Linked DNA regions of Homo sapiens: region 2 is linked to region 1. Evidence: fine-mapped expression QTL. Tissue or cell type: whole blood. Region 1 holds a variant in brackets; the other region holds the start of a gene. All regions are shown on one strand. Distances are between the middles of the regions.

The links. PIP is the estimated chance that this variant, and not a neighbour inherited with it, causes the effect.
Region 2: RB1-DT starts here. The variant in region 1 is fine-mapped to the expression of RB1-DT in whole blood (TOPMed, PIP above 0.99).

What each region holds. Positions count from the first base shown.
Region 1 is chr13:48,539,948-48,548,056 of GRCh38, forward strand. The region is part of intron 1 of LOC124903174 (a long non-coding RNA gene); the gene reads left to right. Among named protein-coding and RNA genes, the nearest start is that of RCBTB2, 11 kb to the left of the region's middle. The variant G/A (reference allele first, on the strand shown) is at 4,486.
Region 2 is chr13:48,300,117-48,308,225 of GRCh38, forward strand. RB1-DT (RB1 divergent transcript) reads right to left here and starts at 3,586. Exons shown (of 3, transcript NR_046414.2): 1 at 3,175-3,586; 2 at 2,223-2,376. It overlaps RB1 (RB transcriptional corepressor 1), which reads left to right and starts at 3,635. Exons shown (of 27, transcript NM_000321.3): 1 at 3,635-3,933; 2 at 7,164-7,290. The coding sequence starts at 3,797. RefSeq lists enhancers at 2,763-3,488, 3,489-4,212, 4,287-4,336, 4,577-4,646 and a silencer at 3,787-4,076.

The DNA.
Region 1 (8,109 bases):
ATGGCTTGAGGCCAGGATTTCAAGACCAGGCTGGGCAACACAGTGAGATCCTGTCTCTACACACACACACACACACACACACACACACACACACACACACACACACACACAAGAACTTAGTGGGATGTGGTGGCTCATTTCTGCAGTCTCAGCTACTAGAGAGGCTGAGGTGGGAGGATCACTTGAGCCCCAGGAGTTCAAGGCCACAAAGCCTTAATTGTGCCACTGTATTCCAGCCAGGGTGATAGAGTTTTCCAGACCCCACAACTCAAAAAAAAAAAAAAAAAAAAAGAGTAGATGTGCAACACTTGCAGGGAATAAAAAAAAATAAAATAATGTGAACTTAGTAAGTCACTTAATATTCTAGGGGCCTCAAAAATCTTTACCTTTAAAAATGGAGGATTAGACTTAGTGTTTCCTTAATATTTTAAGATTTTTGCAAAGCCAACCGATAACAAAATGTGATAAAGATGGCACGTTGTTTGCATATTAAGTAGGAAAAATATACTAAATAAAATGTAACAAATAGAAACTAGCAATACTTTTAAAAATATATTGTACAATTACCAAGATTGGGTTCCTTTCAGTGATGTAAATATGATTCAGTGTTAAGAAATTGATTAATATATTCTTCCATAATAATAGGTCAAAGGAATAGAAATGTTTTAATTCATGATGAGAAAAATGTTTGATAAAATTTAATAGTCTGTAATCATTTTTGATCAAAGAAATCTTTAGTAAGTGGCTACATACGATGAAAGCTAGGTTCATGCTTAATAGTTGTAAATCAAAAATAAAATTCTAAGCCCCTCAACCATCTGAACGGACCCCTCCTCTTGGCCACGTGCACTCCAAGTTAACCTGAAAACCTAGTTCAGGCCATGATGGGAAGGAGGGGTCAGACGTGCCTCATTATACCCTCCTCCCTTTTGGAATTCAGGAAAAGCCAGCCAGCATTAACATTAACTCAGACCTTCAATCTGATAAGAAACATTTATAATTGTTAAATCAAGTTTAGCTTAAAGCTGCCTCCTTACATATTTTAAGTTTGGCCTAAAGGTTTTTCTGTACATCATAAATTATAACAAGTAGAGGTGTACATGGAACACTATGCAGCCATAAAAAAGGATGAGTTCATGTCCTTTACAGGGACATGGATGAAACTGGAAACCATCATTCTCAGCAAAGTAACACAAGAAAAGAAAACCAAACACCTCATGTTCTCACTCATAAGTGGAAGCTGAACAACGAGAACACATGGACACAGGGAGGGGAACATCACACACTGGGGCCTGTTTGGGGGTGGGGGTCTGGGAGAGGGATAGCATTAGGAGAACTACCTAATGTAAATGACGAGTTTATGGGTGCAGAAAACCAATGTGGCACATGTATACCTATGTAACAAACCTGCATGTTGTGCACATGTACCCCAAAACTTAAAGTATAATAATAAAAAATAAATTAAAAAAAGAAAAAAAAACAAGTAGAGGTGTAAACAAACTGTAGCCTACAATTGTGCCAATCACTGAGTTTTCCAAAATCTGATTTCCTTGAATGTACCCTTCATATTTCCCTCAAATTGGTGTGATTGGATCTAGAGTCTCGGTTAGATTGAGGTTCTATATTTTTGGCAAGATGACTTCCTAGATGGTATTGTGTCCTTCCACCAGGAGGCATTTAATGTTGGGTTGTTTCTTTCTGTGATATTGGTAGTTGTTAGTGCTCAATACCTAGATCCATTAACTCAACAGATACTGGAAATGGTGATATCCTAACCCTATCATTTCATCTTCATTTATTAGCTGACATGCTTTTATAAAGGGAAACTTTCTTCCTCAATGATTTGATTTCCCAATGACATAGGAAAAGCATGATAAGCATTTGATTCTGTCTCTTAATTTGCCAGTTTTTATAATAATTTTATAATAATGGGTTGGTCATTAGCAGTCTGCAATGGCCACTAATTGAGTTTCTTTGTTGGTATTGTCGTGAATTCATGAATTTAAGCTTATTTTATTGCCCACAGGACTCTGGTTTTTGTGATGATCACAGAGGAGCAAGCCTGGCTTGTCCGAGACAGTCATATCAATTCATTCTCACTTGATAGTGTCTGGGGTGGCCATGTGACTGGTCCTAGCCATAGACATTTTGATGGGGATGGGAACAGAGAAATTCTAGGCGAAGAAGGGCAGGTCCCTGGTGAAGCCCCATCTCAAGCTGAAAAGCCTGAGACTGCGGCCCAAAGTTAGAACTTACACCGCTGTTTCCCTGCTCGAATCTTGCCTTTTCCAAAGCACCCATGGCCCCACCCTGCCCCCCATCCTGTGCCTATAAAAACATCAGCCTCAGCTGGCAGAGAGAGGAGAAGCAGCTGAATGTCAGGGACTATAGCTGGACATCAGAGAGAAGCAGCCTGACTTCAGAAGGACAGCTTGGTGGCGTAACTTTGGAGAAGAATCTGGCTGGAGACTGCCAGACTTCAGGGGAAGATTACCTTCCCATCTTGTCCCCTTTTCAGCTGCCTCTCTTGGTGATTATCACTTTCATTGGCAATAAAATCCATGCATTTACCATCCTTCAATTCATTCATGAGACCTCATTTCTCCTGGATGCTGGGCAAGAGCTCGGGAGCCATGAGTGAGGATACAAAAAAGCTGTCACACTTGCCCTTTGCCCTCTCTGGCAGAAGGCAGCCGCCTCATATGAAAAGGCAGAGGGCCTGCTGAGCTGTTAGCACTCAAGTTGTCTGTGTACAGCAGGCAAAGCTAAAAGGGCACTGTAGCACTCCCTCTGGGGTTTCAGGGGTTGCAGGCACACCCCCCTGCAAATGCTGCCGCAGGGCCTGCACAGAGTTCACTCCTGCCAGTACCCAAAAGCACTCGCCCTGGCTCCTGCACCTGCTCACCTATGTGCTCCCTCCCGTGAGGAGTGGAGCACAGCAGATCCAAGTGAGTGGAGTTCACTCCTGCTGGCACTGAAGCAGCTGGCTAGTTCCAGCACCCGTGCACTCCAGTTCCTGCCTCATTTGCTCACGGGCTCCCTCCCTCAAGGAATTGAGAGCTGCGGGCTCAGTAAACAAGACAGCTCCTTTGTGAGTCCCACGAAGGGGTCAGGGAAATATCGTGCTTCAATTTCATACAAGGAAGTCCACTAGGAGGCTTCTGAAAAAACACGCCCACCCACCCACTCGGCTGCCCCCTCCTTCCCTTCCTGCTTTTTTTAGGTTGTCACATGAGGACTTGTTTGGAGAGGTGCTGCTGAAGCTTGGAACATCTCAATGGATACATGTGACACAAATGCACAATTGTGAACACTAATACTGCAGATCCAGACTTTTTGACAGGGAAAGCTGTCCAGGATGTGTTGCTGATATAAATACAAGTCATAAAAACTATATATGTAAAATTGAACACAAGTGTGTCTATTTACACTGAGACCTGCTTGGAAATACTTAAATATTGAGTGGTCATTTCTGAGAGTTGACATATTGACTAATTTATTTCTCTCTTGTATTTTTATATTGCTTAAGGTTTAAATTTTTATGTGAATAATAATCTTTTTTAAAAGTATGATTCCTATTTATCTCATGTTACTTATAATGGGGTTTTTTTTCTAAATATATAAGATCTCATAACTGGCATTACATGATTTTCTCCATGGCATGATCATCAACAGGAAATGTTTTAATTCTAGAATAACATTTACTGATAAACATTTTTGGAAATATTTAAGCATTTCCTGATCTGAAAATTTTTGTGATTTTTTTCTTTGTATAGTTTATTGTTATACTTAATAATGCTTTCCAGCCCAGTGGAGCACAGTCATCTTGTCAGAGAAAAAACACTTTCAGAAAAACATGAGTTTTATAGACATTTTCTACTCACTAGAAAAATGAAATTAGTACATTTTTCACTTAGTGGTAAAAATGATAAGCAGTCTCCCTTTAGCCTACCTTTAAGAAATTTCAATTTCTTGGGTCCATTTAATTCTCCTAAGACACTGCATATTCTTAAAACAGAAAGGATATTTTTAAAAAATTTCTAGGCTTCCGGAGAAAAATTGAAAAAGGGTCTTCTTTCTTTTGTTAATGACCTTTTAAATGGCTGGTCCTGCACAGGGAGTTAAGGCCAGGCTATCACAGTAGACAAAGGAAATAGGCTCAGTGCTGCATGCTCCACATTATGAAAGTTGTGACAAATTCAACGTAAGCTATAAGCTTACTCTCTGGATCTCATAAAGTAAAGTCAGAAATGCCAGAAAGAAACGTGTGGAGCCGACGCTGAAGATGAATCTAGAAAGGCAGTTCCTCAAGGGCATTGATAAATATTAAACAAAGAGCAGATATGGTCTGGAGGATGACATGAGGGGGACAGGTTGGATGTAGGGAAACAAATAGACGTGGTTGAAGGAATCCAGAGGAATTTGAGCAGTGGTTTTGAGATGGAGAGGAGAAGAGAAAGCAAGAATTAGGCAAATACTTACATT[G/A]TATAGTCTCTTTGGTCATTTCTCGCTTGTTTTCTCTTAGCATCATTGGAGTCTTCAGAAGGGTTAAACTGAAAACAAGATTTTTCTGTCCATCCTTGGGTCAGAGCTCTAAAGGAGGAACAGTTGGCTCCTGGAAGCCAGCATGGAACTCGTAAAACTAAGCCAAGACATCTGCAGATTTGTGTTTTGGTTGGACAAATCCACATCTTCACTTGATGACTGACAGTAGGAATCACCTCCCCATACATACAGATAAAGATGTGATCCTGACCCCAGTTCAAAAACAGTAGGCCATCAATCCCAGGGCCATATTGGAGCCTTGATATCCAATCTCTGTTCTCCTTTTAGGGTATTCAGTGGGGTGGTGTTCCTCACACCCTCAGCTTGGAGTGTTCTTATAACTTCTGGAATGGGCCTGATCATTTGCAGCCTTCCTACAAAACTGGCTCTTCACTCAAATTTCACTTTAGGGAACAGACTGCTCTGAAATCTAGTTAGAGGTCAGATGAGGCCTTCCTAAGTTTTCTCTGGAACAGCAGGAACTCAAACCTGATCCTGCCATTCCAGTCTGAGCCAACTTGGGTCTGGAGATACTGTAGCAAATCTGCAACCTGGAAGGAAGGATGGGGCTGTCTCCCCACCAAGATGTTCAAAATCCGGAATCTCACATCAGCTTCGGCTCAAGAATGCCATCCCAGCTGTGAAATCACAATGCATGGGTCAGTGAGAAAGTTTAAGAGCCTCACCTAGAAGAAACGGTATTGAGTCTGTATTATTTAGAACCAGTGTCCGTTTAATCCTCTCTCCTGAGATTCCTATCTGGTGTGCTAGTTCCTAGCTAGAGTCTGGGGCCTGAGACACAAGTCGCTAGAGAAACCTTGGAAACCAATATATCGTCTCATTTTGCAAGACCTGGTATAATGTTTCTAAAGCTCAATAGTATAGTCTAAACTGATGGTCTCATATACATGACAGTGGAATAAGAAACAACATGAACATTTTAATTTTTTCTGTACTTTGAGATAATTACCCTTGTGATGGGTTTGAGGTAAACTCAGCTTCAGGGTTTCCAAAATTAAAATTAAGAGAGAGGTCTATAGAAAATTTCTGGCCCTATCCCCTGGAGTTATGCAGCCTGGGGTATGGCCCGTGGGACTGAAACCCTGTCCCAACATCACCACCAAAATGGCTGTTGATTCTGTTCCCAGGGGACTTCTCAAGTAATTTATAGAAGGAGAAATGAAGCTTAAGACAGGCAAATTTGGAGGCGATTATCAGTCAATGGTTTACAACAGGGCTGCCAAGTAGGCAGGACCCACACTATTGAGAAACCGGGAAGATGCAATGCAATGCTCCAGGCTCTGTGGCTATGCCCCATGCTCTCTTCTATTTACTTTTCACCTCAGTTCACTTCTATTTCTGATCTCTTTCCACAAGATTGACAGGGCTTTCTTTTGGACTTCTCTTTGATTAGGATTTAGCTTTTCCTTGGCTCACTCGGGGTTTCAACATCCTGGAATGCTTTCCCAGCACATCTGTGTATCTCAACATTTTCCATAGCACTCTGTCTTTCCTGATCACCTATGACCCAGCACTGCCACTTCATTCATGGGAATGTCCAGGCCCTCATTTAACCAGTCTTCCTAGTTCCCTGTTCCCTTTCCTACCCCATAGGACCACTTGAACCAGCTCATGGATCAGATACGTCTTCCACATCTTCCAAAAAGCTCAGAGGATTTTCTACCCCAAAGAGATAATCCTCAGGGAACCTGCTGGTCCCCTCCCTTTTTCTTTCAGTGTTTGAGACTTGAAGAGGATTATTCTGATGCTTTCTAGGCTCATCAGAGGATACAGGCCTATGGATCACTATGAAAGCATCCACTGTGAAACGGAAAATTGTGTTTTGAAGATAATGCTAGAAAGCTGACACCGCTAAGTCATACAATTCTCGTCTGTTCACAGAATATGATCAAAACTATTTTTTAGAACAAAGTTGATGTTTTTAGCATTGTCCCTGAAACTCCTGTCTCAGTGTAACTCCTTTACCCTGAACTGATTTGGCTTTAGAATATAAATTAGTGGTAAGACATGTATATGGCAAATGATTTGAAATGCAGAACCATGGCAACAAGAGCTTCTGTTAGAGAGAAAAGGAACTAACACTTATTGAGTGCTGTGTACTAGGTACCATGTGCCATTAATCATAGTGATAATGACAATATTGGAGCATGCATATTATGTTTAGGCATTGCTCTAAGTCCTTACATATGACCTATTTTAAGCCTCACAATAACTCCATGAGATGAGCACTGTGTCACTGTCCTCATTTTAGAAAAGAGAGGCTTAAAGAGGCTGAGTAACTTGTTTAAGATGAACTGAGTACCAAGCCCAGGTCTGTCTGAATCCAGCATCTTCTTACAGCATATTTTAAAAATGGATGAAACTTCCTACGGATTTAAAACTTTAAAGTTTTAGAAAATGAAGAGCTGAGTCACATGGCATAACTTGGACCTGATATAGTTAAATAATGATGAGATAAATGAGTTTTGACTGAGATTATCCATATTATCTCAATTTACTACATTTAGGCTATGAACACAGATTTCAATGGAACTCAAGTGACCATTTCATGAGAATGTATACATTGCGTCCTTTCATTTCATCTGTGTTTGTTGCTACAATATCAGAAGGCTTACATGGTTAATTCTATCTTAATATATAACTAGTCTTAATCATATACAGAAAATTTCTATTTAAATCTAGTAGGTAAAATATGTATACAACCTCTTATTTAAAAAATTAAGGCCAGCCTGGGCATGGTGCTCATGCTTATAATCACAGCACTTTGGGAGGCCGAGGCAAGTAGATTTCTTGAGGCCAGGAGTTCGTGACCACCCTGGCCAAAACAGAGAAAACCCGTCTCTATTAAAATACAAAAATTAGCCGGGCATAGTAGTGTGCACCTGTAATCTCAGCTACTCTGTAGGCTGAGGCAGGAGAATCACTTGAACCTGGAAGGTGGAGGTTGCAGTGAGCCGAGATTATGCCACTGCACTGCAGCCTGGGTGACAGAGCAAGACTCTGTCTCAAAAAAAAAAAAAAAAAATTAAGGCTAAGCACAGTGGCTCATGCCTGTAATCCCAGCACTTTAGGAGGATCCACTGAGGCCAGGAGCTCGAGACCATCTAGGCAACATAGTGAGACCCCCATCTCTAGCACCTTGGAGTGTTCTTATAATTTCTGGAATGGGCCTGGTCATAACTGGGTGTGGTGGCGCACATCTGTAGTCCTAGCTACTGGGGAGGTAGAGGTCGGGGGATCACTTGAGCCCAAGAGTTCAAGGCTGCAGTGAGCTATGATCCTCCCACTGCACTCCAGCCTGGGTGACAAAGTAAACCCTATCTCAAATAAATAAATAAATATCTGCTTTTGACATTTTGGAAAAAGAATAAACGAAAACCTACCCATATTTGCTTTTGTGTTTCAGACCTTTTTTAGCCAGGCATTTAAGACTGGCTGAGTGTAACCTTTGCCCTTGGCATTTGGGGGCAAAACCACAGGTATAGGCCAGCCCTGGTATTCGTGGGAGGATTGCACCATTCAGCAGTGTCAGGTCATGAAGCA
Region 2 (8,109 bases), 240 kb before region 1:
AATTTTAATATCACTGAAGGAGTCTCAAACTGAAGAGAGTTCCCTCTCTAGATAGAAAATCTAAGAAATACATATATTTTTTGTAGGAGTCTTACAGCAATCTTCTTAAAATTACCAAGCAGGTTGGAAGAGATCCATGAATTTCAAGAAGTTCAGGGGGAATTTTTTTAAGACTCTGCTGAAATATATATATATATATATATATATATATATATATATATTTTTTGAGATGGGGTCTTGCTCTTGTCGCCTAGGCTGGAGTGCAGTGGCATGATCTCAGCTCACTGCAACCTCTGCCTCCTGGGTTCAAGTGATTCTCCTGCCTCAGCCTCCAGAGTAGCTGGGATTACAGGCACCTGCCACCACACTCAGCTAATTTCGTATTTTTGGTAGAGATGTGGTTTCACCATGTTTGCCAGCCTGGTCTCAAACTCCTGACCTCAGGTGATCCACCCGCCTTGGCCTCCCAAACTGCTGGGATTACAGGCGTGAGCCACCGTACCTGGTCTAGACTCTGCCGAAATTCTAATACTTCTTTGGTAATGCAACAGAAAACTAAAGATTTTGATGGTGAACTCAATTGCTTCTGAGTTGTGTGGATGAAAATATATTTTATTATTTTTTCCTTCAACTTTTAAGCTCCCAGGTATATGTGTAGGATGTGCAGGTTTGTTACACAGGTAAATGTGTGCTATGGTGGTGTGCTGCACAGATCAACCCATCACCATGGTATTAAGCCCAGCATCCATTAGCTCTCCTGATGCTCTCCCTCTCCCCACCCTTCCCCGCTACAGGCCCCAGTGTGTGTTGTTCCCCTTCCTGGGTCTATTTTATGGTATGTATGTGTGTATGTGTGTGTGTGTGTGTGTGTGTGTGTGTGTGTGTGTATCTATTTATGTGTATATATTATGATATATACACCACACTTTTTTCAAACTATTATTTTAGGTTTAGGGATACATGTGCAAGTTTGTTATATAGGTAAACTGTGTGTCTCTGGGGTTTGGTGTGTACAGATTTTTTCACCACCCAGGTAACAAGTGTAGTACCTGATAGGTAGTTTTTTGATCTTCTGTCCTCTCACCCTACACCCTCAAGTAATCCCCCAGTGTGTGTTGTTCCCCTCTTCATGTCCATGTGTTCTCATTGTTTAGCTCCCACTTATAAGTGAGAACATGCAGTGTTTGGTTTTCTGTTCCTGCGTTAGTTTGCTGAGGATAAAGGCTTCTGGCTCCATCCATGTTCCTGCAAAGGACATGATCTCATTCCTTTTTATGGCTGCAGGAAAATATATTTTACATACTAGTGAACATAGTTAAATTAATCCATGGTCAAGACATATATTCTTTTGTAAATTGAGAAATCTCTTTATCATAATTGTAATATGGTAATAAATAAATCTAGATTACATAAATGTAATCTAGATGTTGATAAACTGGTTTTAAATAAAGCAAGTGATATCTACGTATGAAGAGAGTTTACTTCAGTTCCTAGAACTTTCCTTCACTTTCCTGCCATCCCTACTTTTAGTAAGCAAGCATTTACTGTGTGTGTAACACTGTGCTAGGTACTAAGGCAATGATGATACCCAAGATTTGGTCTCTATCCTGAAGATAAGCACAGGAGAAACATTATCAGTCATGATGCTTTCTGTTGCAAACAAGTGAAAACCTCAGCTCAGCTTAGGTCAGCTCCAGGGCTGGCCAAATCAGAGGCTCATTTATAACACTGAGGATCCAGATTCTTTTGAAATTCCTCCTGCACCAATATCAGCATTTCTACCTTCTCTGTAGGTTGGCTTGCCTCACGTTACAATGGCTGCAGCAATCAGAAGTGTCACATCCTCAGTAATACTTAATATTATTACTATTATTTAATAATATTTAGAACTGTGCCATCCCTGTTTCAATTTATCAGGCTCCCAGCAGACTACTCCTTATCTTTCAAATGTCAAAACTGCATCCTGAGCTCTTGCCTAAACTAATCTGGGGTGAGGTGAATGGAAGTAGCACTTTAATTGTATTCATTCTTTGTAGCTGGACCTGGGCCTGGGCCCTATCTCCTGACATTTGCCCACAAGAAAGATTTCTGAAGTTAGGTAGGACTGGCTGTTGAGTAGGCCAGTGCTTGCCAAACCTTTACACATCCTCACATATGTCATAATATGCAGATAAAAAGATAATCCCTTATACAACTTGCTGGGATAAACTCAGGAGGCTTACAGCCATGACCTGCTTGAAGGTTCTTCCTGCCTTAGACCTTGCTCAGCTGCTCCAGGATGAGGGGATTTACATCACAGCACAACTGTATTTTATTCACAGCATAAACCATCTCTTTCCTTCTCAGTTGACGAGTTCAGATGGGCAATAACAGTGTCTGCCAAAGAGAAAAAAAAATGTATTCAAACTAGATAATCTATTGGTACAAATACCGAGACACAGAAGTGATAACAGCTTTAAGCCAATGTTTGATGGTGGTAGTCCCAGCAAGCTCTTTTCTGATGTCTTTGTGCCTTTGCACATGCTCCTTCTCTGTCACTGTTTTCTTCATCAAACATAATATAATGGACAAGTGGAATCAAATAGAATTGAGTTCAAATTCTCTGCTACCCATCGGCCCTGGTATTGGACAAATTAACTCCTCTGAGCCTGTTTCCTCATCTGCAACGTAGACTAGCTAATACTACCCATTGGAAAGCGTTGTTTCTTAGCTAATGCATGCAAGGCTTAAAACCTAGATGACGGGTTGATAGGTGCAGCAAACCTCCATGGCATACGTATGCCTATGTAACAAACCTACACGTTCTGCACTTGTATCCCGGAACTTAAAGTAAAAAAAAAAAAAAAAAAAGAAAAGAAAGAAAGAAAAAGAAAAAAAAGGCTGTTTCTGGGGATTAAATAAGACAATTATGTAAGGTGGCCAGCACAGTTCCTGGTACATAGTAAATGTCAGGCCTGCCTGACAGACTTCTATTCAGCAGCTACTGCTCCCCTGAAAATCTTCCTCAGACGTTTCCACGGTGCTTCCCGTTCTTACACCACTACAATCCTTTATTACACTACTATCCGTTCATTCCCCACAGCTCCCTCCCTTCCTTTCCCTAACCAGTGATCCCAAAAGGCCAGCAAGTGTCTAACATTTTCTATCTTCTAAGTGACTGGTAAAGTTCCGCACCTATCAGCGCTCCAAGTTTGTTTTTGTTTTGGCCGACTTTGCAAAACGGATTGGGCGGGATGAGAGGTGGGGGGCGCCGCCCAAGGAGGGAGAGTGGCGCTCCCGCCGAGGGTGCACTAGCCAGATATTCCCTGCGGGGCCCGAGAGTCTTCCCTATCAGACCCCGGGATAGGGATGAGGCCCACAGTCACCCACCAGACTCTTTGTATAGCCCCGTTAAGTGCACCCCGGCCTGGAGGGGGTGGTTCTGGGTAGAAGCACGTCCGGGCCGCGCCGGATGCCTCCTGGAAGGCGCCTGGACCCACGCCAGGTTTCCCAGTTTAATTCCTCATGACTTAGCGTCCCAGCCCGCGCACCGACCAGCGCCCCAGTTCCCCACAGACGCCGGCGGGCCCGGGAGCCTCGCGGACGTGACGCCGCGGGCGGAAGTGACGTTTTCCCGCGGTTGGACGCGGCGCTCAGTTGCCGGGCGGGGGAGGGCGCGTCCGGTTTTTCTCAGGGGACGTTGAAATTATTTTTGTAACGGGAGTCGGGAGAGGACGGGGCGTGCCCCGACGTGCGCGCGCGTCGTCCTCCCCGGCGCTCCTCCACAGCTCGCTGGCTCCCGCCGCGGAAAGGCGTCATGCCGCCCAAAACCCCCCGAAAAACGGCCGCCACCGCCGCCGCTGCCGCCGCGGAACCCCCGGCACCGCCGCCGCCGCCCCCTCCTGAGGAGGACCCAGAGCAGGACAGCGGCCCGGAGGACCTGCCTCTCGTCAGGTGAGCGAGCAGAGCCGCCGTCGCCTCACGCGGGAAGGGCGCCCCGGGTGTGCGTAGGGCGGGCGCCAAGGCGGCTCGGCGGGGATCCGTCCTCGCCAGGGGCCGGGTCCCGGCGGGAGGAGGCGCCCTCCCTGCCCCCCGCCACGGCGGAGCGTCTGCAGAATGGTGACAGGATTCTGGGTTCTTGGGCGAGGGGTCTCGGCTTCAACTTGACAGGTGTCGGGCGGGTGGGGCTAGGGTCCTGAGCGAAGTGACAGGTGCAGTTCCCTCTTGTGAGGCTCGGAGGCAGAGGGTCGTTGCGAGCGTCCATCAGACGCAAAAAATGAAAAATAAAAATACAAAAATGGTGTCTGTGGGAGAGTTTTTCACCGGAGAATTGGAGTACTCCGGTGGTCGTCTGACTTTCTGTTTTGGTTCACGCGATGCAACAGTTGGGAAGTATTTTCTTCCGGGCGTGCACTGCATCTGAAGTCCATTTGTGGGAGAGGCCGACCAGAAAGCCTTGGACAAGAAGCGCAGGGTCCTGAGTGTCCATTGCCCACAGGATACTCGGCTCAGGAGCTTTGCGGCGTTTCCTTAGAACAATAATGCATCGAGGCCTTGGGGACTCAAAGCCATCTGTAGTGATTGATGGAGCGTAACTCTTTAGAGGAACTGAAACATGGGCAAAACTTTCATGAGACATTTACCAGAAGTGCTTGAAAGTTTCTAAACTTTTTTTTTTCCTGTTTGATGAACTCTTCTTGCGTGTTAGTCGGCTTCGGCTTGTCTCATTATTTCTTCCATTTTGCCTTTTGACTTTGAACCAGCAAGGATCTTGGTGTCCCCTCTTTTTGCCTTTGTTTTTGGCACAAAATTAGTGGTTCTGTGCGCAAATGGAAATTTTCGTTTTCCCTTATTAAGTGGAATCTAAATTTAAGCAAGTCCATACGAATGCACTAGATCTTGAAGGGAAGTATTTATTGTATTACAACATCTTACTTTTCTTGATTTTTCTACTTTATGGTTAAATAGCTATGATTGAAAGAGTGTAATTGTCATTATTGTCAGCACTGGTTCTACTTTGAGACAAGTTCATTGCAGAGGGAATGGGACTTGTTTCTGTTTTTCACTATTTTCTCTCCCATTCTTGTCTATCACCAAATCCTTTCACCCTCACCCATTTCTTTCCACTCGGTATACACTAACAATTCACGGCAGAAAAGATTGAAGTGGGATTTAGGAAATGGCCCCTGGAAGGCTATTAAAAATTTATATATTTAAATGGACTGTCTTATAGGTCAGTTAAAAACCATATTCGTTAAAAAACCAAAATAACAACAACAAAAAATTAAAAACCACGTCTGGGGCATGTTCTGGGAAAAGACATGGCTTTAGTTTCTGATTAAATTCTGATGTATCCAATTCTTGCAAATTTCCCTTGGGAAAATGCAGTAATGGCTACTCTAAAGAATTCCATGTTATGCACACAGCTTTGGAAGCATACTCTAATGTAGGGTAACCAGGAATATTGACGTTGTGGCCACTGCTTGGAAAAAAGAGGACTGTTTCTTTCATTTTTTAACTCATTTTATATATTTTAAGTAATGGAACTATAAAAAATTCTCTTATAAGTCAAAACCATACAAGATACAGTCTGTTCTTGATTATCCATACCCACAAAGGGTTTCATTAACATAGACAGTTGAACTCTATAAATTAACCAGCAAGGGTAGAACCGCTGCCGTGCAGTCTGATACTGAGCATCTTGCCTGGAGATGGAATCAAGGCTCAGTCCAACTGCACCTCCAGTGACAGATTCCATTCCTGATTTGAGAGTTTAGATCTTATTTCTGTTGCCTTATCTCTGGCCTAAGTAATGTAGCTGGAAGGGAAACTGTCACTAGGAACAGCATACCACATTCATTGTTGAAATAATCAAAGGTTAATCATGTTTCGAGCTGGGTGTGATGGCGCGTACCTGTAGTCCATGCTACTCAGGAGGCTGAGGCAGGAGGATCACATGAGCTTGGGAGTTGGAGGCCAGCCTGGGCAACAAAGCAAGACCCCAGTCTTTAAAAAAACAAAAAAGCTGACCAGGCATGTTGGCTCACGCCTGTAATGCCAGCACTTTGGGAGGCCAAGATGGGAAGATTGCTTGAGGCCAGGAGTTTGAGAGGAGCCTGGGCAACAAAACAAGACCCTGTCTCTAAAACAAATTTTAAAAAATTAGCCAGTGGCTGTGGCACACCTGTAGGCTCATCTACTCAGGAGGCTGAGGTGGGAGGATCCCTTGAGCCCAGGAGTTTGAGACTGCAGTGAGCCATGATTTCACCACTGCACCCCAGCCTGGATGACAGAGTGAAACCCTATTTCAAAACAAGAAAAAAAAACAAAAACTAATTATGTTTTGAAGGAGGAATTGGCAGTCTAGAATAGTGGTCAAGGGCATGGATTATAGAGTTAGACTGTTGGGCTCACATAGTGGTTTACCTCTTACCGGCTGAGACCTCAGGTAAGTTCTTTAACTTCTCCAATTTGACAGACATCTGTAAATGTCTACTTTTACAGATGAGAATACTTATCTAAAAGGGCTGATGTCGGGATTCAGTGAAACCATATGTTTAAGGTACTTTCTACAGGATCATAGTAAATACTCAAAAATTATTAATTATTCTTCATACTATTCTTATTAGTAGATAACACATAGAAATTAGATGAATGAAAATGAATTAGCCAACAAGAATTTATTAAATGCTTGTCTTTGTTAAGGGGAAAGGACAAAAATAAGCAGTCGCATCATGTAAGATGTGCTAGTAGGTAGAGAGATATATGAAACATTGATAAGAGAAGACTACAGTTTAACAAAGTCACTGGCGTTGAATTGTATAATATTATCTATGGGTTTTTATCTTTTTGTTGTTATCTTTATCCTATTTTCCCAAACAGCTTTAGCTATTACATTTACTTTCCTTCACAGAAGTGTTTTGCTGCTTTGAAGTATATTTGACTTACCATGCAAGCAAATATTTTTCACTGTGTGGTATCCTTATTTTGGAATGACCATGAAAAAGATAATCATATGTTTAAATTTGAAGTGTAATGTTTTTCTAAGATAAAATAAGATCTTAAAGTATTTAATAATGTTCTTTTTCACAGTAGTGTTATGTGCAAACTATTGAAACAAGTATGTACTGAATCAATTTGATTTATAAGTATATGCCAATTATATGATTATTTTCATTTGGTAGGCTTGAGTTTGAAGAAACAGAAGAACCTGATTTTACTGCATTATGTCAGAAATTAAAGATACCAGATCATGTCAGAGAGAGAGCTTGGTTAACTTGGGAGAAAGTTTCATCTGTGGATGGAGTATTGGTAAGGATTTTCTTAAAACGTTTTGAAATTTTTTTTTCTCATTTTAAAAACAACTTCAAATCACTATACAAAAATTGAAAGATAGAAAAATATAAAGACAATAAAAGCTAATAATAATTCCATTACCCAGAGGAAATTTACCTCTGCTAACATTAAAAATGTTTGAGGCCGGGCACGGTGGTTCATGCCTGTAATCCTACCACTTTGGGAGGCTGAGGCAGGTGGATTGCCTGAGCTCAGGAGTTCGAGACCAGCCTGGGCAACATGGTGAAACCCTGTCTCTACTAAAATACAAAAAAAAAAAAAAAAATTAGCAGGGTGTGGCGTGCGCCTGTAGTCCCAGCTATTTGGGAAGCTGAGGCAGGAGAATTGCTTGAACCCAGGAGGTGGAGGTTACAGTGAGCCGAGATCGTGCCACTGCACTCCAGCCTGGCAACAGAGCGAGAGTCTGTCTCAAAAAAAAAAAAAGTTTGAAAAAAATTCCTCCATAAATGCCTCCCACCAAACTATTTTAAAGCAGGTCTTAGTTATATTTTATTCACTATGATACAAGGACTTTTAAAAAAACACCGCCATACCTTATAAAATAATTTTTATACCTTCTAATATGCAATCAGTGTTCAGATTTCCTGACTGACTCAGAATTAGTTTTGTTAGAATTCAGGATCTTGAAAATATATTGATATATTCCTTTCATTTTTTCTTTGCGTAAGTATAGATGTATATGTTTAATAAAAGGAGCAAATAATTACTAGAGTTTTATATGTACTGGGGCAATAGTATAAGAATTTTACATAGCCGGGCATGGTGGTGTGTGCC